4 linked regions of the Homo sapiens genome follow. The protein of the gene in region 4 interacts with the protein of the main gene of each other region in a biochemical or structural test. Each region holds a gene or a part of one and is shown on either strand. Other genes may lie near its edges.

The links.
Region 1: the proteins of SRI (region 4) and CACNA1C form a complex in vitro, tested with the Homo sapiens proteins (one study listed by BioGRID).
Region 2: the proteins of SRI (region 4) and CACNA1S form a complex in vitro, tested with the Homo sapiens proteins (one study listed by BioGRID).
Region 3: the proteins of SRI (region 4) and ATP2A2 form a complex in vitro, tested with the Homo sapiens proteins (one study listed by BioGRID).

The regions. Positions count from the first base shown.
Region 1 is NC_000012.12:2,692,969-2,698,468, forward strand, and holds the end of CACNA1C (voltage-dependent L-type calcium channel subunit alpha-1C), read left to right. Parts: 3' UTR 1-4,982; downstream 4,983-5,500. UniProt on the Homo sapiens protein: Pore-forming, alpha-1C subunit of the voltage-gated calcium channel that gives rise to L-type calcium currents. Mediates influx of calcium ions into the cytoplasm, and thereby triggers calcium release from the sarcoplasm.
Region 2 is NC_000001.11:201,102,405-201,109,440, forward strand, and holds part of CACNA1S (voltage-dependent L-type calcium channel subunit alpha-1S), read right to left. Parts: intron 1-7,036. UniProt on the Homo sapiens protein: Pore-forming, alpha-1S subunit of the voltage-gated calcium channel that gives rise to L-type calcium currents in skeletal muscle.
Region 3 is NC_000012.12:110,340,220-110,347,255, forward strand, and holds part of ATP2A2 (sarcoplasmic/endoplasmic reticulum calcium ATPase 2), read left to right. Parts: intron 1-439; coding exon 440-775; intron 776-2,008; coding exon 2,009-2,229; intron 2,230-3,012; coding exon 3,013-3,215; intron 3,216-4,666; coding exon 4,667-4,752; intron 4,753-5,029; coding exon 5,030-5,163; intron 5,164-5,781; coding exon 5,782-5,899; intron 5,900-5,981; coding exon 5,982-6,251; 3' UTR 6,252-7,036.
Region 4 is NC_000007.14:88,204,608-88,210,067, forward strand, and holds the end of SRI (sorcin), read right to left. Parts: coding exon 5,376-5,460; intron 4,846-5,375; coding exon 4,732-4,845; intron 3,959-4,731; coding exon 3,900-3,958; coding exon of another isoform or gene 3,882-3,899; exon of another isoform or gene 3,588-3,881; intron 1,898-3,587; coding exon 1,871-1,897; 3' UTR 508-1,870; downstream 1-507. UniProt on the Homo sapiens protein: Calcium-binding protein that modulates excitation-contraction coupling in the heart. Contributes to calcium homeostasis in the heart sarcoplasmic reticulum. Modulates the activity of RYR2 calcium channels.

The sequences.
Region 1 (5,500 bases), on a different chromosome or scaffold from region 4:
TGTGGTTGGGGGAAAGGGAACAAGTTTTCTTTAGTTTGCACAATGAGCAAAGGTATCACCAGTGTAGTCATTATTCTGCTCTCCACAAACAGGTTTGGACATTACTGTTTTGCATATCTTGTGTTTGCTTACATTTCCCTCAATTTTTCCAAAATCGTTTGCTGGGTATGTTTGTACCGCCTCTTGCTGTGAGAGACCAGGACCTATTTTATTCCAGTCTTCACTCTGTCCACTCTGCTCTGGTCATCTGATTTGGTACTTCTCCAAGAACAGCCCTTCACTGTGAGGTGCAGGGAGGCGTTCTGATGAGCCCTCAGTCACTGGGCCGTCATCCGCATCCCCCATGGAAGAGGTAGCTGGCTTTCCCTTCCCTTCCACCACACGGAATTTTCTCTTTGGCTTCCTTAGGAAAGTGTACACTAACCGGGAGGATAAAATTAAAGTCAGGCTGCTTGGAGGGAGGGGCATCCTCACTTCCGGATTCTTGTTGCTCTACCCAACAAGGACAGCAGGGGCTCGAGAAAGGAACTGGTGAAACCCTGATCCATCTGAAAGTCAACTCTGCGTGCTCCTTTCTCCATCCCTTCCTCACTCTGGAGCAGCCTTTCCTTCAGGCTTGCCCTAATGTTTGGGCTGCCGGGGAGGGGGCCAGGACAAGGGAAGAGGCATCCGGAGCTCACAGTGGGGGTGGGAACAGATTTTTGTGGGGGCATCTCTAATGCTCACTTATATCTCCCTAGAACATCACTCTTTTGGTGCTGTGTCCTTCAAATGTATGTCAACAGTGGTGGCTGAAAAGGGACTGCTTTGGGGAAAACAGGACCCAACCATTCACCCAGAATTGACCCATTAAATCTCTTCCAGTCCTAGTGTTCCCTGAGCCCCTCTTGGCACATATATAAGTAAGCTAGAAATTACAATAAGGGACAGTCCATTCCTCTATGACAGCTTGCTGGACTGATTCATGACAAAGTGGAGAAATGTACTCAATACTCCCCGGTTAACACAGTCTAGAAACAGAGTTTCTTTATGGATATCCACACCCAAGTCATCCAAACTTTCTTGATTCCTTTTCACTGCCATCAAGGTCCTCTAGAAATTGAGTTTAGGTATCATCCTTTGAAAAGTTCCCAAGATTTCTACCAGGAGGTACACACAGGCGTTCCCTGTCTAGGGCAGGAGGACTATCCTAGCTTGACCTTCTGATCCACTAGAATAAGACTGGCGTATGATGCCTGTCATCAGAACAGACTGGCACAAGTAGTGACATCAATGAACCACAGCACAATCTTCCAAGTGATGTCTACTCTCCACCTAAAATGGAATTTTCCCCATGACCTTGTAAAACATAATTGTCACATCTTCCATACCCCTCCTGACAGCCCCCAAGTGTCAGGAGAAAACAGTCAGGGGCTAAGGGCCCAAGGGACTTGAAGAAACAACAGTTTAAGGTCTGCAGTTTGGTCAACTTAATTCTTGTCCTCCGACCAGCCCTGCCTCTTTCATTTCCAGACCTTGGAGAATTTTTCCCAGCTTTGATTCAGAAGGTACTAGTTATAACCCCTTTCCTTCTTCTTAATCCAATAGGCCTCACTCTCACTGGGAAATCCACTCAAAGGAACAAGGCAATGTCTCTCATTCTATTTCCCAGTTCCAAATTCCAGGTGCTTGTCTGGAGTGAAGCTACCCGTTACTTTCTCCCAGCTTTTCTCCACCCAGCATGTCTCCTGCCCATGCAGCTGAAGACAGTGGGGCAACCTCAGGAGAAGCAGACCTTTCCATGCCCAAGTTCATCTCCTGAGCAACAGTGACACCTAGAAAATGAGGACTTTGGAAGTCACCCAAAAGATGGTGGCTACTTTATGGAGTCCTGAAGATACACAGCCACCACTCCTAAAGGCAAAGAAAGAAAACACGAATGTAGGTCAGGGATAGAGTGGAACCCTGGTCATCGGGGTTTTTAGCCTCATCGTGGGAAAGGTGGTAAAGGAGGATGATGGCATCTCCATCCCTAGAGGCCAAGAATTGAAATATCATTGTCAAGGATTAGAAACAATTCAGCAAAGAGGCCACAAAAAGGGCCTGCTGACTCCCAGAAGACCTCTTTAAACCCCAGGGGAGGCAAATACTTGCTGATGGAGTCTGGGCCGTTTCCATATTTTAAAGAAGACCTGCCTCTGGGGCAAATGTCAGCACAGAGAGGACTGGGAGGAGAATGGAGGCAAGAAAAGGGCATATTTTGACTCCCTCTGTGCCTCTTCCCAGTTCATGGAAGGATGTGTTCAGCTTACCCACCCACAGTGACCAGTGTGGTGGAGCCGCTGACATCTCAAGGATCTATTTGGGAAGGTGAGAAGAGTACTCATTCCATCTGGGGGTGTTGTTCCAGCCACATCAGCCTACCTGGTGGGATGTGGGGGTGTCTGCCACCCTGTCCCCCCTCTGCTGATGTCCCTCCCCTCAGGCTGTCCAGGTGCCACCTGACACAGGCTGCTGTGCAAAGACAGGCGGGGAAGCCCAAACCTCACTCCCAGGGAGGCCCTCAGCCGCCAGAGTCCAGGTTCTCCAGAGGCTACGATTTGAGGAGGTTGAGGGGGAAGACAGGAGGGAAAGAAAAGTCCTACAACTGTCAGGAATGGGGCACCTTTCCCTGTCCCTAAGCAAAGCTCCCTCTTCCCACTGCCCTCCCCAGCCCCAGCTCCCTGTCCTCCCCAACACCTAGTGAGAAAGACGGTGCGTGGAAGGGAGTCCCATGGGCAGATGCTTACACGACCTCTTTGTGAAGCCTCTTCTGGGTTTAACTTCATTCATCAATTTATTCTTATGTCAAAGCAATGAAACTTTTCTTTCTGGAGCCAGATACCAATACAACAGGTGAACGGGTTTCTGCCACATCTCTACATTGACGGGGGATGCTTGAACAACCCCCCTCACTACACAGACACACACCGTTAAGGCACAAGGGCTGGGGTTGAGCTCTAGATGAGGGACTTTCCTGCTCCTGCAAGGGTGAGCACTGTATACACAGACAAGGAGGGTGCAGTAGAGTGACTCCCTTGGATGGAAGTAGTACCATCAGAACCTACTATTATTATGACATAAATTCTATTTACATACATTGAGAGAATACTACAATCAACACTTTTTCCTGGGATGACTTTAAGAGGTTTGAGCCACAGCACCTGAAGTGGCAAAGATCCATGGTCTTTGTAGGGTATTAGAGAACTCTTCCAGTCACCTCTGAAAGCACTCTAGATCTTGCAGCTGAGTGGATGAAGTGTAACAAATCTGTTGCACGCTGAGAGGAGTCAGAATTAGCATTTTTCATGAAAGTTCCCCACGTCTCTACTAAGAATGAGGAAGAAAAGACTAAGACTAGGTAATTACACAGAGGCTTGAAATGTTACATCACCAGAGCCAAGTCCTCTCCCTTCAGATCAGTTACTGGCTGCTACACAGGGACACCCCCACCTTTTCAGGGCATCCCATGCACTCCACTTCTCAGGATCTAAGGAATTTGACTTTGTAGGGATCCCAGAAAGGGCACTGTGCCACTTCCCCTGGTGTGAATCAGACATACATTGTACATTCATTTCTAAAATTCACTCATGCACCTCAAACCAAGGTCATTATCCAAAAAAAAAAAAAAAAAGCTCTGGGTGGAAGAGTTTGTAAGTTTTAAGAGAGGGTCATTTCTATGTGAGGAAATGCAGAAATGGACAGAATGATTCTTATTCACTGTTTGGGTCTGGAGAATTCCCATTGTGGAAATCTTAGAGATCTCAAGTTTATTACCAAGGGAATAAGGAAAAAAAGGTGAGCAGGCACCAGGCCAAGCAGTGGCTCCCTTGCCAAGGAACCTGAGGCTGCAGGTTTCAGGGACCCCCTTGAAGAAACCTCTCCTGGCCATTGGCCAGGAGAAAAGAGAAGTCTCTCCTGTAGAGTCACAAGAGAAGCAAAAGAGGGTGGGTCACTGGGTCCTGGACATAGCCCCCAACCCCAAGACTTCCCAATATGGAGAAACTACACCAATGTTTAAAAGGGGAAAAGGAAAGAACTTGTACATCAAGGGAAGATGATTTGTAAACACACAGTCCTGTGCAGAAAGATCCCCTTCAGGAGGTGTCTCCAGCATCCCAAAGCTGTGCGCACCTTCTCTTTTCCTGCCTCAGGCCACCTATGCATCCAGCTGCAGCCCATACCCACACCTGAAATCCATCTCTTGAATCCCAGCCAGGTTATATACCACCCCATTGCCATGTCCTGTCCTGGCCAGAATGCATGCTGTTCCCCCAAGCCTCGTGGGAGTGAGGCCATGGGAAACAGAGATGAGCATGTCTGGACAAGTCTGTGATGGTAGTGGATGAGAATAACCCATGGCAAAACACGCACATTCATTAAGAAATAGGGCGACAGATTCCCCGTTGGTGAAGCACTGAAAGGTCTATTACTCTCATAATATTGCTGTTTTATTTTAATCCACCAGAGCTACCATGCAAAACTTTCCTCCTGTGAAACGCTCCAGATAAAGCTCCTCTAATCTCCCCTTCCCTCATGTCCTCCAGCTCAAACCCACCTTCATCCCCCAAACCAATCTGTATCATGCCTGTTATCAGAGAGGCACAGAAAGATGGGCAGTGCCTCCGTTGTCACCATTCCCCACACCCCTACACACCCCCACACCCTCCCCTCCAGGCTCCACGACTTCACAGTCTTACTGTTGTAAATATCATTGTACAGTTTGTAATCCTCAAATAATCCCATTGTCAGAGGCCTCGCCTGATGGGCCTTCTCACCCTCGAGAAAGGCCAGGGAATCTAGAAGGGGCAACCCTTCAAGGAGAGCTTCAGGGTCATCTCTGTGTGAGACACTATTGTATATTCCTGTAAGATTGCATTTTTATCTAAGGAATGATGTTATTTAAAAAACAAACAAAAAACACAAAAAATAAGAATTGCAAATAAATTTCTTAACAATGTCTACATTGACTTCATTGTATCTTCCCTCTTCCTTATTTCTTCCTTTCTCCTGTTTCCTAGAGGTCACAAATACAAACTTCACTCAGTTATCTCAACTGTCTGGGATCCCCAAAAGGAAGAAGACTGGAGAGAACACAGGAAATATGAATCCAATGATAATACCTAAGTCCATTCAGCAGTTAACCCATCCCCTATTTCTTCCTTCTCATGAAAGAGTTGACAGAAAAATGGCCAAAAGTTAAAAAGGAGACAAAATCAGAGGAATTAAATGGCTAATTCACATGGATTAGACAGGAAAAGCAGTCTCTGAAATTGGTTTTGAAAGGACAGAAGGGAAGAGGGATGGAATGTAGGAGAGAAGAAAGGAGGGGGAGATATGATAATATATAAAGTACTATGAGGACTATACAAATGTAAGATTGCTTTTCTTTTTTTTTGTTATTATAACTTAATCTGATTTCGATAAACCTTTCAGAATAACCCCTTAAGTAAAAATAATTTGTCCCAGAGGATTCTGGGAA
Region 2 (7,036 bases), on a different chromosome or scaffold from region 4:
GGCCCTCGTCAGCCTCGGATACTGTCTCCTACTCCCAACCCTTGGGCCCAATAGAGGAACCAGTTGAAAAGGAAGGCCCGACATATTTCCATCAGCAAGCAACAGGACCACCAACTCCTCCGTGTTGCCCAGCTCCCACTGAGAGTGGACATACAGTCATACCCATACCCAACACGCATCCCAGTCTGTGCGGAGCAGTCCATCATCATCCTCCCTAGCTTCGGACGACAGCCGACTAAGGTAGGTACTCTTATCCCATTTTACAGATGAGGAAGCCAAAGCACAGAGGGATTAATTTCTCCAGGATCACATAGCTACCAAGAGGCAGAGCCATGATATGTATAGACAGTTTGATTCCAGACTCCATGGTCTCAACCACTATGCCAGGCAGAGGGGAGAGAAAGATACAGTATGCCTGGGACACCTGGGTACATTTGTCAGATCCCGCCCTCAATCCACCCCAGGTCTGTCTTTGCCCCCCGAGGCTTGGGTTCAGTGTGACTTCAGCTGTGGGCTGTTAGTGCTGGGAGGTCAGAGAAGGAAGGGAATGAACATTTATTGAGCAACTCTTGTGTGCCAGGTCAGACACGAGGTTGTTGCACTCATGGATATAACAGTCCTGAAAAGAAAGATATTGTGGACCAGCCTGACCAACATGGTGAAACCCTGTCTCTACTAAAAACAAAAAAAAATTAGCCAGGTGTGGTGACGTGTGCCTGTAGTTCCAGCTATGCGGGAGGCTGAGACAGGAGAATTGCTTGAACCTGGGAAGTGGAGGTTGTAGTGAGGTGAAGTCGTGCCACTGCACTCCAGTCTGGGTGACAGAGGAGACTTGGTCTCAAAAAAAAAAAAAAAAGAAAGAAAGATATTGTGGTCCTCTGTTCACAGATGAGGTAATGGAGGTTCAGAGAGTTTAGGAAGCTGCCAACCAGTCTAGATTGGAGGCAGGTTGGTTTGACTTGAGAGGCCGTCCTTTCCTGCGACTCCCCAGGGAGCTAGCAAAGCTTGGGCAAAGGCTTTCCTCCAAGGCTTTCCTCCAAGGCTTCTGTTGTTCAGCTATTACAGTGTCTGCAGCCCCTGTGCCTGGTGTGAAGGGGCATGGGTTGGGATGGGCGGGGGAGAATCTAAGTGCCCTGAAAGGGGACCTGAGTTCTTGCAGTGGTGGGAGGGCAGGCTCCCAGGTGGGTCTAAAATCCAGGCTTTCATTCATTTCCACAGACCCTTTTGGAGCACCATCACTTCTCTGTACAGTGGCCCAGGCTCAAACCACCCTGTGCTCTGCAGGTCCTGGATCTCTAAGGGGTGAGGCCAGAGCTGCGGTCCTTCTGAGGCCCCAGCCTCCCCAGATGGCGAGGGGAATGGGCTGCTGGCCACAAGAGTTGGCGAGCGCATTCCAGACCCTATAAAAAGACAAACGCCCTGGCTGCCAGAGGCTTAGGCTCCAGCCTCGTGGAGGACGCTGCAGCAACTTGAACCCCAGGAATGCGACAGGGGCCTGGTGGAGCCTGCTGATGCCTGAGGGGTGGGAAGCCACCCTGCAGCCCAGGAGGGGCCAAATGGGCAGCCATCTTGCAGAGCTTGCCAGGCCCTGCCCTGCCCTGCCCTGCCCTCGAGGAGAGCAGGCACCATCTACTTAAGAAAAATCTAAATTATCCAGAACTTGGAAATAAAGCAAAGAAAGGATGCCATATCTTTGTAATATCATGTTGGAGCATTTTATAACAGGCCTGGCCAAGGATTATCTAATTATCCAGGTCAGGGTTTCTCAACCTCAGCCCTAATGATATTTTGGTCTGGATACTTCTTTGTTGGTGGGAGGGGGCTGTCCTGTGCATTGCAGGGCCCCTGCCTCTACCCCACTAGATGCTAGTAGGACACATCTCCGCCCCTGCCCCTCCCCCTCACAATTCCAGTTGTTGCCAAATGTCCTCTGGGGCAGAACTACTTCCCCTCCCCAATCCCTTGAAAACCACTGACCTAGGAGGGAATGTAACTTTGTTTAGCTCTCACTATTCTGTCCTCTAGAGATGCAAATGAATTCTGCCTGATAGGAAGATAACCCCAATGGTTAGAGTTTTATTGCCCTGTAGGACATTAACCAGCTTGGTATCTAACCTAGCAATCCTATTCCATCATTCTCTCTCCGGTGTCATAACTTCTGCTGCTCTAATTCCCTTTAACTCAGCTTCACACGCCTGCTTGTTCTCTTTTGAGTTGAACTAATCTTTGATATGTGTTCCTTGGATATTTTACTCACAGTTGTGTTTTCACTTTTTGAACATCATACTTTGACATAGGATTGCTTTGAGGGTGAAATGAGATAATGTAGCAAAAGCAATCAGTTTATCATGTCTGCCCAACAATTAGGAAGTCTGATAATTGTTTTTGCTTTTCCACATTGGTCCCCTCAGCCTGGCCTAGGCTGGAATGGTAACCCTGCCCAATAAAGGATGTAGGCCTGCCCACAGAGCCACCTGGGCATGTGCAGTGATCTAACCTCTCTGCGCTGTGGTTTACTCCTCTGTACAAATGAGAAAAATAAAAGTACCTGCCTCATGGGCATTCAGTGTGATAACACATATAAGGCATTAGAACAGTGACTGACAATATGCAAGTAATCGATAAATATTGAATGTCATTGTTGCTGCTGCTGCTGCTGATTTGCTGGAGGACTGGGGAGGGGTGATCAGGAAAGCCATTAAGAAAAGTTAGGGGTTTCAAGGAGAGAAGACACAGAGTTAAAGAGAAATCAGGGACAAACGATGGGCAGGGTGAAGAGGAATTCTTTACCTGAAATAATCCTTTGGCATAACTGTTGGGGGTTAGACCCTTTGAATCTAGAACAACCTGGGGGTCTCTGTGACTATAGGCTTTTTGGCTGGTGAGCCTGCTCTGTGGGGCCTGCATGATCAAAGTTCCTTCTGTTGATAGATAAAGCACTACAACTTAGAAGGTCTTCACTCATCCAGTTACCTCTCTCAAGTATACAATATCATCCCCATTTTATAAAGGAGGAAACTGAGGGAACAGAAAGGTTACATAACTTGTCTAAGATCACACAGCTAGTAGGTGAGTGGGCCTGGGCTCAAAAGCAGATTCTAGCTCCAGAACCCATTTTTATAACCACCATGCCATAATGGGCTGATTTCAGAGGCCCGTGCCACTGTGACATCCCACAGTTGGCCAGGATGTCAGCATCCTGGATCCTCCTCTTGCCACCCTCTGATCAGCTGCATATTCATTCCCAGGACTCCTTGCTCTCTCTGGGCCTCAGTTTCCTCTTCTATTCAGGGAAGATCCTGGGATTTCCCACAGACACAGAGCAGGCAGAGTCAGAGGTGTACCTCTAGCCCCAGGAAACCCGGGCCCCAAGTCTATTACCCTCAGCCAGTGCTGGCAGAAGGGATATGGAGGGACACTGCCAAGGGAGCCTATTCCCACAGACAGCAGTCACACCCCCGGCCCTGCTCGCACACACGGCAACTGAGGGAAGCCCTTCTTGCCCACAACCATCCCCGCCCCTGCCCCACCCAGCCAGTTTGGCATGTGCCAAAGTGAGGAAACCTCTGTCATAAAATGCTTGGACCTGCAAATCCAATTACCCATCAGTGGACACAGGCACCTGTATCACCACACATCTGAAGTTGAACTCACCACCTTCCTCCTCCCTACCCCCATCTGCAGTCTTGGTAAGTGATACTGCCATCTGCTCTGTCCACTTCTGACCCCCAAGTGTCATCCTCCCCCTCCCCCACACCTCCATCCCCACCTCCAGTCCTCACCATGGATTCCACCTGGCAGGTCTTTCTTAAGGCCACCTCACAGCCATCTTTACCATCACCAGTGCCTTGGCCCAGCCTCCCCTGTTTCCTGCCTGGATGACTTCCCTGGGCTCCCTGCCCCCTTCCCTGCTTCCCATCTCACCCCACGTCACCCCAATCCATGCTCCACATGGGGCCTGAGAGATTTTTCTAAATCCCCCCCTGACCTCTCTGTCTCTTGCCTCCAGCCCTTTGCCCACGTGGCTTCCTCTGCCCAGAATCCCCTCTCCCGCTTGGCCTTCTACAATGCGCTCCTTCACAGCCAGGCTACATAATGGGGGGCCCAGTACAAGTGAAAATGTGGGCCCCCACGTTCAAACAGTAGGAAATGAGTGCTGATGAAGGTACTAAATATAAAGCTTTTCCCTTTCTTTCAGCCCCTTTCTCAGCCTACTGTGGTGTCTTTTGATTGCTGTTCAGTGTTGTGCAGGGCAAGTGCAGATTGCCACAAGCGCCTCCTCCTAATCTTCCCCCTCCACCCTCACCATCCCACAGCCCGACATCCTGTGCCCTGGCCAGAGGTGGAGGTGTGGAGCCAGGCATCTCCCCTTCACTCAGACCCACCACCTCAACCCATAGTGGACATCCGGCACCCAAGGGTGTTGCAATCTCTGCTTCCTGGGAAACAGTAAGTACCCAGAATCGGGGAGGGCCTTGGAGGCTCAACCTCATAGGTCATTTACTGAATGGACTGCAGCAATGTCAGCCCAGGGTAGAGACAACCAGAGCCATGTCCTTCCCTGAGACACGGCCCTTCCCATTCTCCCACTCAGGCCTCTGCCAAGTGGCCCAGGACCCCAGAGGGCAAAACATCAAGCTGAGAGCCCCTCCTTAGAGGCAGGGAGATGGCAGAAGTCAGGACCTTTTGTGAGCCAAGGTTCCAAGCTTGAGGTGCATGTGCCATTGTCCCAATGGACTTCACTTACAAATCATAAATTCAAAGATAAAATTAATTAAAATCTCAATACTTTGACCACAGAGCATTCAACCCCAAATGTGGGGCCCTTCTGAGTGGGAGTCCTCTGGGACTGCATAGGTGGCACTTGTGTGAGCTGTCCCTGTCCTCAACCTTTAGGTCTCAGGTTAAACATCCCATACTTGGGGAAGCCTTCCTGATCTCAAGACTAGCTTAGGTTCTCTGTCAATATGCTACCATAATATCCCCAAATCTTGAACCTTTCCCATTTCATTTTAACTACCTGTTTAATTGGTTTTATTATATTTACTTGTTTAATCCATGTAATGAAGCTCTGTGAAGATGGGAAATGTGTCTATTTGGTTCACAGTGATATCCCCAGTATGTGCCAGGGATGTGATAGACACTAAAGATGCATTCGTTAAATGAATGAGAAAGGTCATGAATAATTAAACCTTAGGCCTCCTTTCTTGAAAGCTACGGGTTATTCTGGATGACTGGAAAGACCCCAACCCTTCTCTGCTACCTACAAAGCAGCCAATAGGGCAAGAGAGAGAGTGCCTACTGCCCTTTTCTACTCTGACTCCTCTCATCTCCCTCTTGCTGGGTTTTGTGGACATGAACAGTGAGGACCCCTGAGCTCGAAGGTGGCTGAGCGACCTTGGGTATCACCGACTTTCTCTGGGCTTCACAATTAAGGGGTCAGGTTAGGAGTCCTCACTGAGCATTCATTTCCCATAGAGCTCTGACATGCCAGGTGGCATTTGCTGCTTTGGAAACATTTCTGATTAGGTTTCCGACTTGCAGGGAACTCATAATACTGTCTCTATGAACTCTAGGCCTAACCCAAGGTTTTGCAACTCCAGCCCACAAACTAAAGAAAAACATACACAGGACCACGTGAAACAGTTAAGGGAGCCAATTTTGTTTCAGGATGGAAGATGACATAACCATTAAGATGTAATTTTTTTTTTTTTTTTTTGAGACAGGGTCTCACTGTGTCACTCGGGCTGGAGTGCAGTGGCATGATCTTGGCTCACTGCAGCCTCGACCTCCCAGGCTCAAGCAATCCTCCCACTTCAGCCTCCCGAGTAGATGGAACAAGAGGCATGCACCACCAGGCCCCGCTAATTCAATTTTTGTAGAGACGGGAGTCTCTCTATGTTGCCCAGGCTGGTCTTGAACTATTGGATGCAAGATTTCTTCACGTCTCAGCCTCTCAAAGTGCTGGGATTACAGGCATGAGTCACTGCATCCAGCAGAGGTAAAATTTAATATCCTCCAAGGTGGGGCAGAGTTTTTTTACAAAAGTAGTCAATGTCACAGGGAACTGAGGCCCAAAAATATGAAATCCTGAAGGGTGGGGTAGACCTAGAGCTCTCCCTGCATTCAGGGACATGGAGACTAACCCTATGGTGTAGAATGCCCAGAGTTTAAGAAATGCCTTCCTTGCCGGCAAAGGTGGCATTGGCCCTGCCAACATTTAATCCCACTCTCCTTCCACACTCAGGAGCTCAGAGTGTTTTCCCCTCATAGCAAGCACACATTTAGAATCCCAGCTTCCCATCAGCTCAAGATAGATTCCCATGGAAACCAGCATAAAGGAAAGGCAGAGATGTGTCAGGCCCTGGACACATGCAAATATGCCTCCTCCCTCCCAGGCCCTGCAGTTTCAGTGCAGGAAAAAAGCCCTGTTGAAAAGGTGGTTCCATTGTTCTGTCCCCTAGGGAGCCTGAGGCCACTGTTTATAAGAGGGCTTCCCCTAGAAGTCTTTCTGCCGTCACCCATCACCTTGGCAACACAGCCTGTACAAGAGCAGGTTCTGGCTAGGTGTGGTGGCTCACACCTATAATCACAGCACTTTGGAAGGCTGAGACTGGTGGATCACCTGAGGTCAGGAGTTCGAGGCCAGCCTGGCCAACATGGCGAAACCCCATCTCAACTAAAAATATGAAAATTATCTGGGCATGGTGGCAGGCGCCTGTAATCCCAGCTACTTGGGAGGCTGAGGCAGGAGCATCACTTGAACCCAGGAGGCGGAGGTTGCAGTGAGCCGAGAGCCGAGATCACACAGCCTGGGCAACAGAGTGAGACTCTGTCTCAAAAAAAAAAAAAAAAAGAGGTTCTAAAATCAGAGAGACCAAGCTGGAGGCCCTACCACAAGATATAGATGTGGGTGACCCTGGGTAATGTGCCTAAACTCTCTGAATATCAGTCTCCTTTGTCTTTTAAATGGGTCTAATAATGTTACTTACCCCACAGGAGTAGTTATAGGGATTAAATAATACAATAATGTAAA
Region 3 (7,036 bases), on a different chromosome or scaffold from region 4:
TGGTATTTTTTTTTCTCATAAGAAAATGCAAAAACCGCCAGGCACGGTGGCTCAAATGCCTGTAATCTCAGCACTTTGGGAGGCCGAGGCTGGCAGATCACCTGGGGTTGGGGGTTTGAGACCAGCCTGACCAACATGGAGAAACCACATCTCTACTAAAAATACAAAATTAGCCAGGTGTGGTGGCGCATACCTGTAGTCCCAGCTACCCTGGAGGCTGAGGCAGAAGAGTCTCTTGAACCTGGGAGGCGGAGGTCGCAGTGAGCTGAGATTGCGCCATGGCACTCCAGCCTGGGCAACAAGAGCGAAACTCCGCCTCAAAAAAAAAAAAAGAAAAAAAATGCAGAAACCTGTCTCAATGTTTAACTGGGCATTTTTCAAACTAGGGGACAAAAACTAGAACTTGCCACTTTTATTTAAAGTGATGCTCTTATTTTAGACCAATCTGACCTTCGTTGGCTGCGTGGGCATGCTGGATCCTCCGAGAATCGAGGTGGCCTCCTCCGTGAAGCTGTGCCGGCAAGCAGGCATCCGGGTCATCATGATCACTGGGGACAACAAGGGCACTGCTGTGGCCATCTGTCGCCGCATCGGCATCTTCGGGCAGGATGAGGACGTGACGTCAAAAGCTTTCACAGGCCGGGAGTTTGATGAACTCAACCCCTCCGCCCAGCGAGACGCCTGCCTGAACGCCCGCTGTTTTGCTCGAGTTGAACCCTCCCACAAGTCTAAAATCGTAGAATTTCTTCAGTCTTTTGATGAGATTACAGCTATGGTGAGCATGTTTGAACATGTACAGGTGACTCAGGCTACACAAGCACATAGTAGCCTCTAATTTTGACCACTGAATTTTTTTGTCATAGCTCCCTAATTTGGAATTTGTCATGATTTGGGTCTTTTCTCTAGAATTCGGTGAATCAGTGGTTAGCATGTTGTGTGCTACTTGCAGGGAAGATCCTAGAGTCGTTTAAAACCCAGAAGGGCCTTCCAGATCAGTCCCAGAGGAACAATCTGGTGATCTAGTCTCTTTTTTAAATGAGACGTGTTTTTATTGTAAGTTTTCTGAAAATTGAGGATGTAATCAGTCAGTTGTTTGGATCACCCTGCTTTTAAGTTCTTTAAGAGCTGGCTATTGATGAAGCATTTCCAGTATTCTTCCCCTCACCTGATTTTCACCCAGATACATTATGTTAAATTTACTTTCTTCTCTTTTAAAAAAAAATCTTAGTTTTGAAACATACTATAAGTGTACTCTCCTCTCCCCCAGAGGTAACTGAAGTTGGAATTTAGCAAAAATATTAAAAACATGGGAGTGCTGTTTTTGTGTCTGTAGACAGTATTATTTTTGCATGCTTTTGAAGGCATATTTTTTGGCCGAGTGCAGTGGCTCATGCCTGTAACCCCAACACTTGGGAGGCCGAGGCAGGTGAATCACTTGGGGTCAGGAGTTCAAGACCAGCCTGGCCAACATGGTGAAACCCCGTCTGTACTAAAAATACAAAAAATTGCTGGGTGTGGTGGTGGGCGCCTGTAATCCCAGCTACTCGGGAGATTGAGGCAGGAGAATCGCTTGAACCCAGGAGGCGTGCAGTGAGCCGAGACTGCGCCACTGCACTACAGCCTGGGCGACAGAGCGGGACTCCATCTCAGAAAAATAAAAATTTGCATATTTTTGCAATCTGCATCTTTCTACTTGAAATTTATCCATGTGGATACAAGTGCTTCCTCTTGACTGCCACATAGGTTGTGTTTTTGTTTTTAGTAAGATAATACAGATAAATTTGAAGTCCCCTTTGTCCCACTTCGGTAAACTTATTTGGTAATTTTACATTTCCTAGGTAAAATGTGTTTTGTGACACCAACTTATGAAACAAAAATTCTAAAACTCTTTGCCAAGAGACCTACGGCTCTATTCATTTTCCTCCTGCTTCCCATTCAGTGGGCTTTTGCCTAGGGGTATGAATGTGGCATGCCAGTTGGCTGACCCAACCATTGCTTTCCCTTTCAGACTGGCGATGGCGTGAACGATGCTCCTGCTCTGAAGAAAGCCGAGATTGGCATTGCTATGGGCTCTGGCACTGCGGTGGCTAAAACCGCCTCTGAGATGGTCCTGGCGGATGACAACTTCTCCACCATTGTGGCTGCCGTTGAGGAGGGGCGGGCAATCTACAACAACATGAAACAGTTCATCCGCTACCTCATCTCGTCCAACGTCGGGGAAGTTGTCTGGTAGGTCTCTGTGACAGCATCACTTACTGTACGCCTTTATCTAAATGGGTCATGGAGCCCAGTTCTCGCAGTTTGCTCTCCAGATTGCAGCAGCTTTGGTCTTTGTGCCTGAGTTGGAAGAGGGGAGTGGGCAAGACAGAAATGCCTTATGGAAGCAGTGGTGCTTTGGCCCTCGGGAGGGTTGTCTGCAGCTGCCCCAATGTGCAAAGAATCCTCTTTAACGTGAGACTGAGCTAACATTAACCAGGTAGTCACATGAAATTCTTGCCCTCCAAAAGTTGGCTTTATCTCAGTCAGCTTAATAATTTTTTTATTTTTATTTATTTTTTTGAGACAGTCTCGCTGTCGCCCAGGCTTCGGGCAGTGGCACGATCTCAGCTCACTGTCCCCTCCACCTCCTGGGTTCAAGCCTCCCGAACAGCTGGGATTACAGGCATGCGCCACCACTCCCTGCCATTTTTTTGTGTTTTAGTAGAAATGAGGTTTCACCATGTTGCCCAGGCTGGTCTCTTAACTGCTGAGCTCAGCCAGTCTGCCCACCTTGGCTTCCCAAAGTGCTGGGATTACAGGCATAAGCCACCGCACCTGGCCTCAGTCATCTGAATTTAAGTAATAAACTAAGTAAAATTGAGCTTTAATTCAAAATTGGGTATAAGTATTTTACAGATTACCTGAAGTTGTTGTCATTTATTTTTCTGGAGGAGGGCGGGTTGATGATGCTCTTTAAATAGTGGCCAGAAGTCATTTGGGCTCTCTTTGTCTTCTTTTCTTGATTGGAAACAGTATTTTCCTGACAGCAGCCCTTGGATTTCCCGAGGCTTTGATTCCTGTTCAGCTGCTCTGGGTCAATCTGGTGACAGATGGCCTGCCTGCCACTGCACTGGGGTTCAACCCTCCTGATCTGGACATCATGAATAAACCTCCCCGGAACCCAAAGGAACCATTGATCAGCGGGTGGCTCTTTTTCCGTTACTTGGCTATTGGCTGTGAGTACAATTTTTTTATATTACTGATTTTTAAACAAAATGTTTGTGAGCTGAAATTTTGTAAATTCATCCCTTAAAAGCGTGTTTTTTCTTCTATCCCCGTATAGGGTAGCAAAAGACAGAGATGCCCTCTTACAGTTCGATGAACTATACATCCAATTTACCAGAGTCCTTTCACAGTTAGTTCCAGTTTTAGCATCCTGCCCTTACTTGGGCTTTTCTGAATGAGCAATTAAACATCAGGGTTTTCAGATTGAGCCCTCTGTGCAAAGGGATAAGAATGATTCACGCTAGGTTCTGCCTTCCAAGAGTTCATAGGTGGGATTTAAATAGATAATTGTCACCAAGTTATAAAATTTAGTCCCTGTTTCCATAAGAGAAGGGTTGCGCAGTGGCTGGTCCCTTTTATATATAAATCATCTCTTTAGCCCTCATCTTCCTCACCCCGGGTTCTTCCCCATTTCATAGATTGGGAAAGTGAGGTGAAATCACTTCCCTGGGATCCCATAGGAAGGCATTGTGTTTTCATAATATATTCACATGACTTCAAATTCAAAAAGCACACAATGGCATAGAATGGAAAGGGTTTGGGCCAGTCACTTCCCTCTGGCGTTGAGGTGCTCATGTACCCTGTGCCCTTCCGGAGAGATTCCAGCATGCTGTGCACACCTGCATGTTGACCCTTGTCTTGCCTTCTTCCTGCTTGTCAGATCCTTCCATATCCGGACATGCGTAGTGCCTCATCCTTGCAGCCAGCGGCCTTCATGCTCCACTGTAATTCGTGGGTTAGTGGGTATATGCACTTGTTGTTTTTGATGCTACCACATGGGGATATTTGCCTCGTCTGAACTCTGTGTATTCTCTGCTGCACCTTGTTGCTTCTTTGCAATAAACTTCCTGAACTCAAAGCTAATACTGGGGGGAATCCCAGAAGCTGCTGAGGGCAGGGCCATGCTGCTCAGTGTTCCACCCTAGCTCCTGACAGCATTTCCCTAGAAAACTGCTGCTGGGCCTCTAATGGAGCAAATAAATCTGTGTACAACTAGGCAGCAATAGTTTGTCCAAAAGTCCTGGTGTAATCTAGTCCCTCAAACTGTGCAGCCTTACATGGAGTACACACACACTTGCAGCCTTGAAGTACTACCCACTGAGGGGAGAAGGCACGGCAAGGGGAAAGGTTGGCACAGGATGGAGCAAGTGCTTTTTCTCACACATTCTGGAGGAAAAGTTATCCAGTTCTTCTGTTCTAGAAACACCCCTGTCCTTCAGAAACCAGGGTCTAGTTGCTCTGGCTACCAGGCGTGAGCAGGTGGTGGTAGCACCACAGGCCCCGGTTACCATCACTGTCCCATGTCTTTGATCTTCGTCCTTGTGGGGACTGGCCTGCATGGCCTCGGTGGCAGCGAGCCCTGCAGAGGCAAGTGCATCAGCATCACTGTGTTTGTTCCCAGGTTACGTCGGCGCTGCTACCGTGGGTGCTGCTGCATGGTGGTTCATTGCTGCTGACGGTGGTCCAAGAGTGTCCTTCTACCAGCTGGTACTCAGTCACCTTTCTTTCTGTACCTTACATGAGAAGTGTTGTGAGGCCTTGACCTTTCTGTGGTTTCGGTATCTATCAAATCATCTTAAGACTCAGACAATAAACAGTTACATCTAAGATGATTCTGAAGGACCAGGGCTTCTCCGAGAAATTGGGGTAAACCTCTTGGCTGGCTCTGCATTCAGGCTGGTCTGTGCTAGGCTTGGTATGGGGTTGGAGCCTGGACTTGGGAAATATACTGGGCTGATAGGAATTTGATTGGATTTTCTTGCAGAGTCATTTCCTACAGTGTAAAGAGGACAACCCGGACTTTGAAGGCGTGGATTGTGCAATCTTTGAATCCCCATACCCGATGACAATGGCGCTCTCTGTTCTAGTAACTATAGAAATGTGTAACGCCCTCAACAGGTTAGTGCACCTTCACGGCAGGCTGAGGCGAGCATGGTGACTGCCAGGGCACCGGGGAATTGTGTGTAGTCACGGTTGATTGAGGATCACAGGACAGTTCTTCCCTTCCCAAAAGAAAGGAGAACAGGCAATACCAGTTTTAAAAGCATGAGCTGTCGTCACCTCCAGGAAGTAGTGGGAGTGCTTAGCCCTGTGTTTCTTAGGAGCTCTTCCTTAAAAGAAACCGTGGGGGCCAAAAATAGGAACTTTGGTACCCCTGTATGCCAGCACCCACAGGGAAGGAACCTCACCCTTTCACACAGACAAATGGTACCATCCAGTTAAGCCCGTGACAAAAATGGAAATTTCTAAATAGCCCAAGTCTCCAGGGCAATTGGGAACAGCTTTGAACCCACTAAGATGGGGTCTGCTATGCCAAAACATAGATACAGAATTCACAGTTTGTCCTGCATTAGGACATTCTCTTCAACTTTGCCACTGTAGAAAGTGGAGGTAGGTCAGCGGATGGTGCCACATTAACAGCCGCCTTACTGAAGTGTAGTCCAACAGGGTCTTACTGCCACTGTGACACGTGCCTTGCCTTGGGGGTGCGTTTCCCCACCTCTCCTTGCTCTGCAGCTTGTCCGAAAACCAGTCCTTGCTGAGGATGCCCCCCTGGGAGAACATCTGGCTCGTGGGCTCCATCTGCCTGTCCATGTCACTCCACTTCCTGATCCTCTATGTCGAACCCTTGCCAGTAAGTGGTTGGGTGGGGCTTGGGACCAGCCACCTCCTTCCAGGGGAGGCTGGAGGCGTGACACGTCTTCCCTGTGTGTCAGCTCATCTTCCAGATCACACCGCTGAACGTGACCCAGTGGCTGATGGTGCTGAAAATCTCCTTGCCCGTGATTCTCATGGATGAGACGCTCAAGTTTGTGGCCCGCAACTACCTGGAACCTGGTAAAGAGTGTGTGCAGCCTGCCACCAAATCCTGCTCGTTCTCGGCATGCACCGATGGGATTTCCTGGCCGTTTGTGCTGCTCATAATGCCCCTGGTGATCTGGGTCTATAGCACAGACACTAACTTTAGCGATATGTTCTGGTCTTGACTGACAGTTTTCCATAAAGAAGATGTTTAACTTAATCAATTAATTTTTTTATTGTTTAAAGCAACTGTCTATTTCTGCTGAATTTTCACATGAACATACTGGCTGGTGATGGAGGTTTCATACTCTAGATTTTGTTTTGCTTTTTCTGACTCCAGTGGGGCAAGATTTTCCTTTTTTATACACATAATTAAAGTGTCCATTGACATGTACAGAGAACTAACACTATTTTATGCAAATATTTTTTTGTAGATGAAAAAGCATGTACAGTGTTCTGTTTAATACTCATCCTTGTATAAAAAAAATAGTTGAGCCAGCAGACATTGTCAGCAAATTAATTGGCAGCAGATTTTAGGAAATGAATGTGTGTGGTTTTTTTTCTAAAACTAAATAGCATGTATTGTGTCTTTTGCATGATGATCCGGATTTAATTTGATATCACAGTCTAATTTTTATTCATAAGCCAATTTTTCTGCACTGAGCAGAGTCTTGCTACCTCAGTCAGTATTGTTTTGGTTTGCTACTTCCCTCACCCACTTTGGCCTCCGTTCACCCCACCCCACCCCACCTCTCCCCACCTTACCCCCGCCCCGCTTGGCTTCTTCTTTAGGATTGTGATGGTTCGTTCTGTTTACATCAGTTTTAACGAGAGGTATGCCTGTACTCGCTTGTGCAGAAAACATTGTTCCAGATTCAATCGACTGGGTTTATGTCCCTTCACATAGTTTTTAAGGTTATTTATTTAAATGTCTAATGTATTTTATTGTAACAGACATTGTTTTGCCAAC
Region 4 (5,460 bases):
TGTCTTTAGCAGTGTGCGAACAAACTAATATAATGTCAGAGGGATGCTTTTGTATTCACCCCAAAGCCAATTCAGAACCACAACTGATGCAGCACACCTTGGGACTTGTTCAAATATGGCCCATATCCTTCAGCAAGGGCCTTCTCTACTGCTTATCCTCAACCAGGAAATTACCATTTCCTTAAACTATGATTTCCTCAGAGGACCCTGGTGAGTTGAAACCAAACAGCAGGTGCTAGGACACTGAAGGTGAGCTCCCTGCCTCCTAATCCTCTGAGCCCCTTTTTGGCCCTTTTCTAGATAGCCCAGACTCAAGCAGAGCTTTATGGCCTCACAGACAATATACGGAGATGATGCAATCTATAGTCACTGTGTAATATATAGCAGGCTGCTTCACATTCTGATATGTAACCTGGGCTAACTAACTTGCCATAGTTATATGTTAGGTTTGAATAATATATATTTTAACAATATTTTAAAAAATTAATAGTGAAATGAGGCTAAAGATGCTTAGAGAAAATGTTTTATTTTCATTAGTTGACAACTAGTTGTTCAGTTGAATGGTAAGTTTCACACTGCATCCTAAAATAAGACAGATACTCTGCTGGCAAGTAGAAAATAGACTAATTTCATTTTTTATCTGTTAAGCTCTCTTGATAAAAAAGGCAAACCAGGCCAGTTTTAAATTTAAGAAACAGAAACATTGTCAGTGCTTCTTGTATCAACACACTTCATATTCAGAACTACTCCCAAGAGATAACATATTATCTCCTTTTCAAAGATGGGGAAACTGAAACTGGGCATTATCTATAATGACCAAACCACATAGTAAGAGGCACAAGCCAGCATTAGAATTCAGATCTTACTTGAAAGTGTACAGCTTAAAATTTTTTAAAAAATTCCTTCCATTATAAATGTAGTACCTGCTTACTGGAGAATGTTTGGAAAAGCAGTAAGAAGGAAGAAGATGAACTCATGATCCTGACTCCCAGTGGTAGCCAGATCAATGTTTTGGTACATACTTTCCGATACTCTGCTATGTGTATTTTTTAAAGTGTGAATACATGGTATATCAAAATGGATGTATCAGTATTTTAAAAACTAAAATCTGATTTTAAAAGGAAAGCATATAGAAAATCTGAAAAATACTGATATAAAGAAAATTAAAGTCATCTAGAATTCCATTCATCCAAAATAAACATTGTTAATATTTCCATATATTCCCTTAGTCTTTTTCTATCAATTTTCTTTTTATATAGTTAAGCTTATAATGTACAAGATTTTTAAGGAGAGTTAACAAAGGTTTAAATAGATGACAAAAAGGGACTTGGTGACAGATAGTATTTGCCAATCAAATTATTCAACAGGTTTTGAAGGGCGTGTGCTAAACTTCTAAGGTGAATCCTGACGTGGATTACTGGATTACCTTTTTTGTTGTTTTATTTCACCCAAGTGCGTCTATGTCATTTACCTAAGTTTTTATGTGTGGAGTATTCTTTGTAGGAGAGGAAAGATAACAGCTGTAGTCTGATTAACAGTTTTTAGTGTCTCACAATGAAAAATAAATAATGTGACTTAAACATTTTGCATACTTAAATTTACATAGAGTTTTAGCAAGAAAATAAGGCATGACTGATAATGGCTCAGGAAAGTTCTAAATGGTGTAACAGACTAGATCTTATTAAAGTTCCAAAGAATTTATTATCAAAACTAAAACAAAACTTCAGTTGTACATAAAGTAATAAACTTTACAACAGCTGTTAAGAGAAAGTCGTGATGTAAGTTTATACATATTACCGAAGGCAAAGAGGACAAGCAAAGGAGAGCTCCAGTTGGAATGTTGATTACATTCATGCAGCTTCCTCTTGATTTAAACACTCATGACACATTGAATGAACTGAAAGAAAAATCAGCATTATATGACAGACCTCAAAGCACTTATACGGCACAGCCTATTTCTGGCAGCTTACATTTGGTTTTCTAATTTGAACACGGGTAAAACAACCCCTACAACTTTCTAAGATATGAGTAAATGATAGATGGAAAAGTTTCCTTTTTTTAGGGAAGCAGTCTAATATAAAATCCACAGGGTTTCTCACATCAAAACTTCTTAGAGAAAGCAGATATAACTTCAATGGATAAATAATTTAAATAATTATTTGAATAATTATTTAAATTCCAAATAATATCCAAGACTAGAAATGGCCGTGGTCAAAGACACTTACCACAAACACAAACAACTGGAGTTTATACTGTTGTATTACGTGGGGATTTCCAAACCACACAGTATTACCCCATTACTCTAATGGAACACCTTAAACAGTTTATTGCCTTAAAATCTGCTTTATTAAAACAAATTGTAGCATGCAAGTGTATGTATGCACAGAAACAGAACAGCTAACCCTTCAGATACCTGAGATTAGAAATACCAGTATTTGCTGTGAAATGTTGGCTTCCCCGCTAAACATAAAGCAATAGATTCTGCTCTATCAGTGTTCCCTACACTACTAAGGTATTGTGCACTGCTAACCCTTGCAGCTCTATTGCAAGGTCAAGGTGATTATCCCTATTTTAGAGAAAAGGAAAATAAGGATCAGGATGTTTAGAAATCTTTTAAGTAGCCCCATCTGAAGTCAAAGCCCATGGTCTTTCTTTCCATTCCCCAGGCAGCCTTCTGATCTTTAGAAACAGCAAGGGGACTGTCAACTAAGAAGTTAACGCATGTTAAAGAGAACACACCCTTAAGCAGGTAAAATAAGCATATTCACACACACATACTAAGCTTTTAAAAGTGTACTTATAACTGCAGCAGCTGCTAAACCAAAAATACATGCATCTTATATTTTGTAATGGAGAATGGAATATTCAGTGATTACAGTCATTTCAATTCTACAAGTTTTTTTGTTTGTTTGTTTTTTGTTTTTAAATCAATGGCTGAGCAAAAACTGAAGAAACAAGTAACCAATCTCTCTAGCTTTGTTATATACATCCAGCTAATGCCATCAAAGATGGCACTAGGTTATGTTCACACTGATTACATGGCCTTACCCTACCCTTGTTTAGTTTGGCTGTTTAGTAAATAACTTGTTTTAAATTGTGATTTAGCCGGGAGCAGTGGCTCACGCCTGTAATCCCAGCACTTTGGGAGGCCTAAGCGGACAGATCACAAGGACAGGAGATCGAGACCATCCTGGCTAACACAGTGAAACCCCGTCTCTACTAAAAATACAAAAAAACTTAACCAGGTATGGTGGCACATGCCTATAGTCCCTCAGGAGGCTGAGGCAGGAGAATCGCTAGAACCCGAGACGTGGAGGTTGCAGTGAGCTGACATTGCGCCACTGCACTCCAACCTGGGCAACAGAGCGAGACTCCATCTCAAAAAAAAAAAAAAAATTGTGATTTAAGTTGTTGCCTGCCTTATGCCCTCAATGAAGAACATAGGTATGCAAAACTATTGAGCTGTTATCTATTCTCAGTGACTGACATGATTTGTTTACAGAAGACAAAAGCAGATAGTATATCTGCATAGTGTTTTTCAAGGGCATTTCTAATAGAAATCTTACAATGGCTCAGTGAAAAAGGCATTACTACTATATCTTCTTTATTCATATAGTGTCACAGCAATTAAGAAACCTGCTTAAGTGACCCAGCTAATAAATACAACAAGCTGGGTCTTGAACCCAGGTCTCTGAATGCAAATCAAATCATGGTCTCACTATAGTTAAGACTAATAAATGAAATTAATAAATTCTGGATGATAACTCTTTCTAACTTTTGAATCCCTTATGTCTCTGGCATCCTTAACCTTAAGATATTCTTAACAGCTAATTTCAAAGGGATACCCATCTGGTGTACATCCTTTTCATCTACTGTATCTCTTAATTTCTAAGACTTACATCATCATATGGGAAATTCACAACACCTTGCTGAGCAGTATCCCGTCTTCGAAAGCTGTCTGTAAAACAACACAGTAAAATTTATGGTTTTTCTTTAAATGGTTTTTCTAAAATCATAAAAGTTAGTTATTTTGGCATTGAATTCACATTGCAGTAACATTTAAATTGTGCAACCAATTAACATAAACAAAAGACCAAAGCAAAGAAGCCAACTATATGAATAGTAAAAGATTTAATATGCAACAAAGTAACAGGCAGAAGTTGGCCAGCTGTGTTTTTTGTTTTTTTGTTTTTTTAGATCTGGAGAAAATACCTTACCCAAAGTCAGTAAAAGCTGTGCAACTTCCATGGCCATTACTTCATTGTGATAAAAGCACCGAATTTCTAGCTTCTTAATAACAAAGATACTGCTTAAGAAACAGATAAAGAGTCCCCAATATAACAAATGGGCTGTAATCAGTTTCTCTACCATTTCAGCTCTGCCCTATAGAAAAGGATTTTATTTTAATTTCACTCTTTCCAAATATTTCACATTCTGGGGAAAAATTCATTATTATCTGATCAAAAATGCACAAGTTAGCTGATTGTGTTTTAGAACATTTTAGTAAAATTTAATTGTTTATTTTAATGGCAGATTACTTACTAATCTAAAATAAATTCTGGAAAAAAAACCAAAAAATTATTTTGCCAGATATGCTTAATAGTAATCTGAAAAAAACTACTAAAGCAAGAAAAAATTTGGGAAGAATAAAAGTTGAGAAGCACTGAGAGATGAAATGTAATAAAAACTGTGTCTTGGCTTGTGGTGATGACACGACCTTATAGAACTCACCTGTAAGAGCCCTCAGTTTGACGCAGCAGGCGATGTAGTCGTCGAAGGTGATCTTTCCATTGGTGCTGTATCGTTTTGCAATTGAATTCACAGCCTGGGGACTCAACCTAAATCCTAAAAGAAAAGCCATCCAGTAAAAAGGTTAAAGGATTGCAGAAGCTCATTAAAAAATAAAATAATCAAGCACTATTTTATTTTTTAAGACTGCAGACTCATATTAATTATGAACACACACAATTTCTAAGAAAACAGAAACTGCCTTCAGGTAGCAATTATTTATTTATTTATTTATTTACGAGAGGGAGTCTCACTCTCGCCCAGGCTGGAGTGCAGTGGTGTGATCTCGGCTCACAGCAACCTCTGCCTCCTGTGTTCAAGTGATTCTCCTGTCTTAGCCTCCCGAGTAGCTGGGACTGCAGGTGCATGCCACCACGCCCAGCTAATGTTTCTGTATTTTAGTAGAGTCGGGGTTTTACTGTGTTGCCCAGGCTGGTCTCGAACTCCCGAGCTCAGGCAATCCACCCTCCTTGGCCTCCCAAAGTGCTGGGATTACAGGTGTGAGCCACTGCACCCAGCCTGGTTTTAAAAATAAAAATCAACTTACTTCTACCAATGAATGGAGAGTTCTAGTAAGCCATACCTACCCATTGTTGTCAGGGCCTTCTGCAATTCTTGTGGGTCTACTGTTCCACTCCTGTCAGTGTCAAAACTGATAAAGTGTTGTCTCCA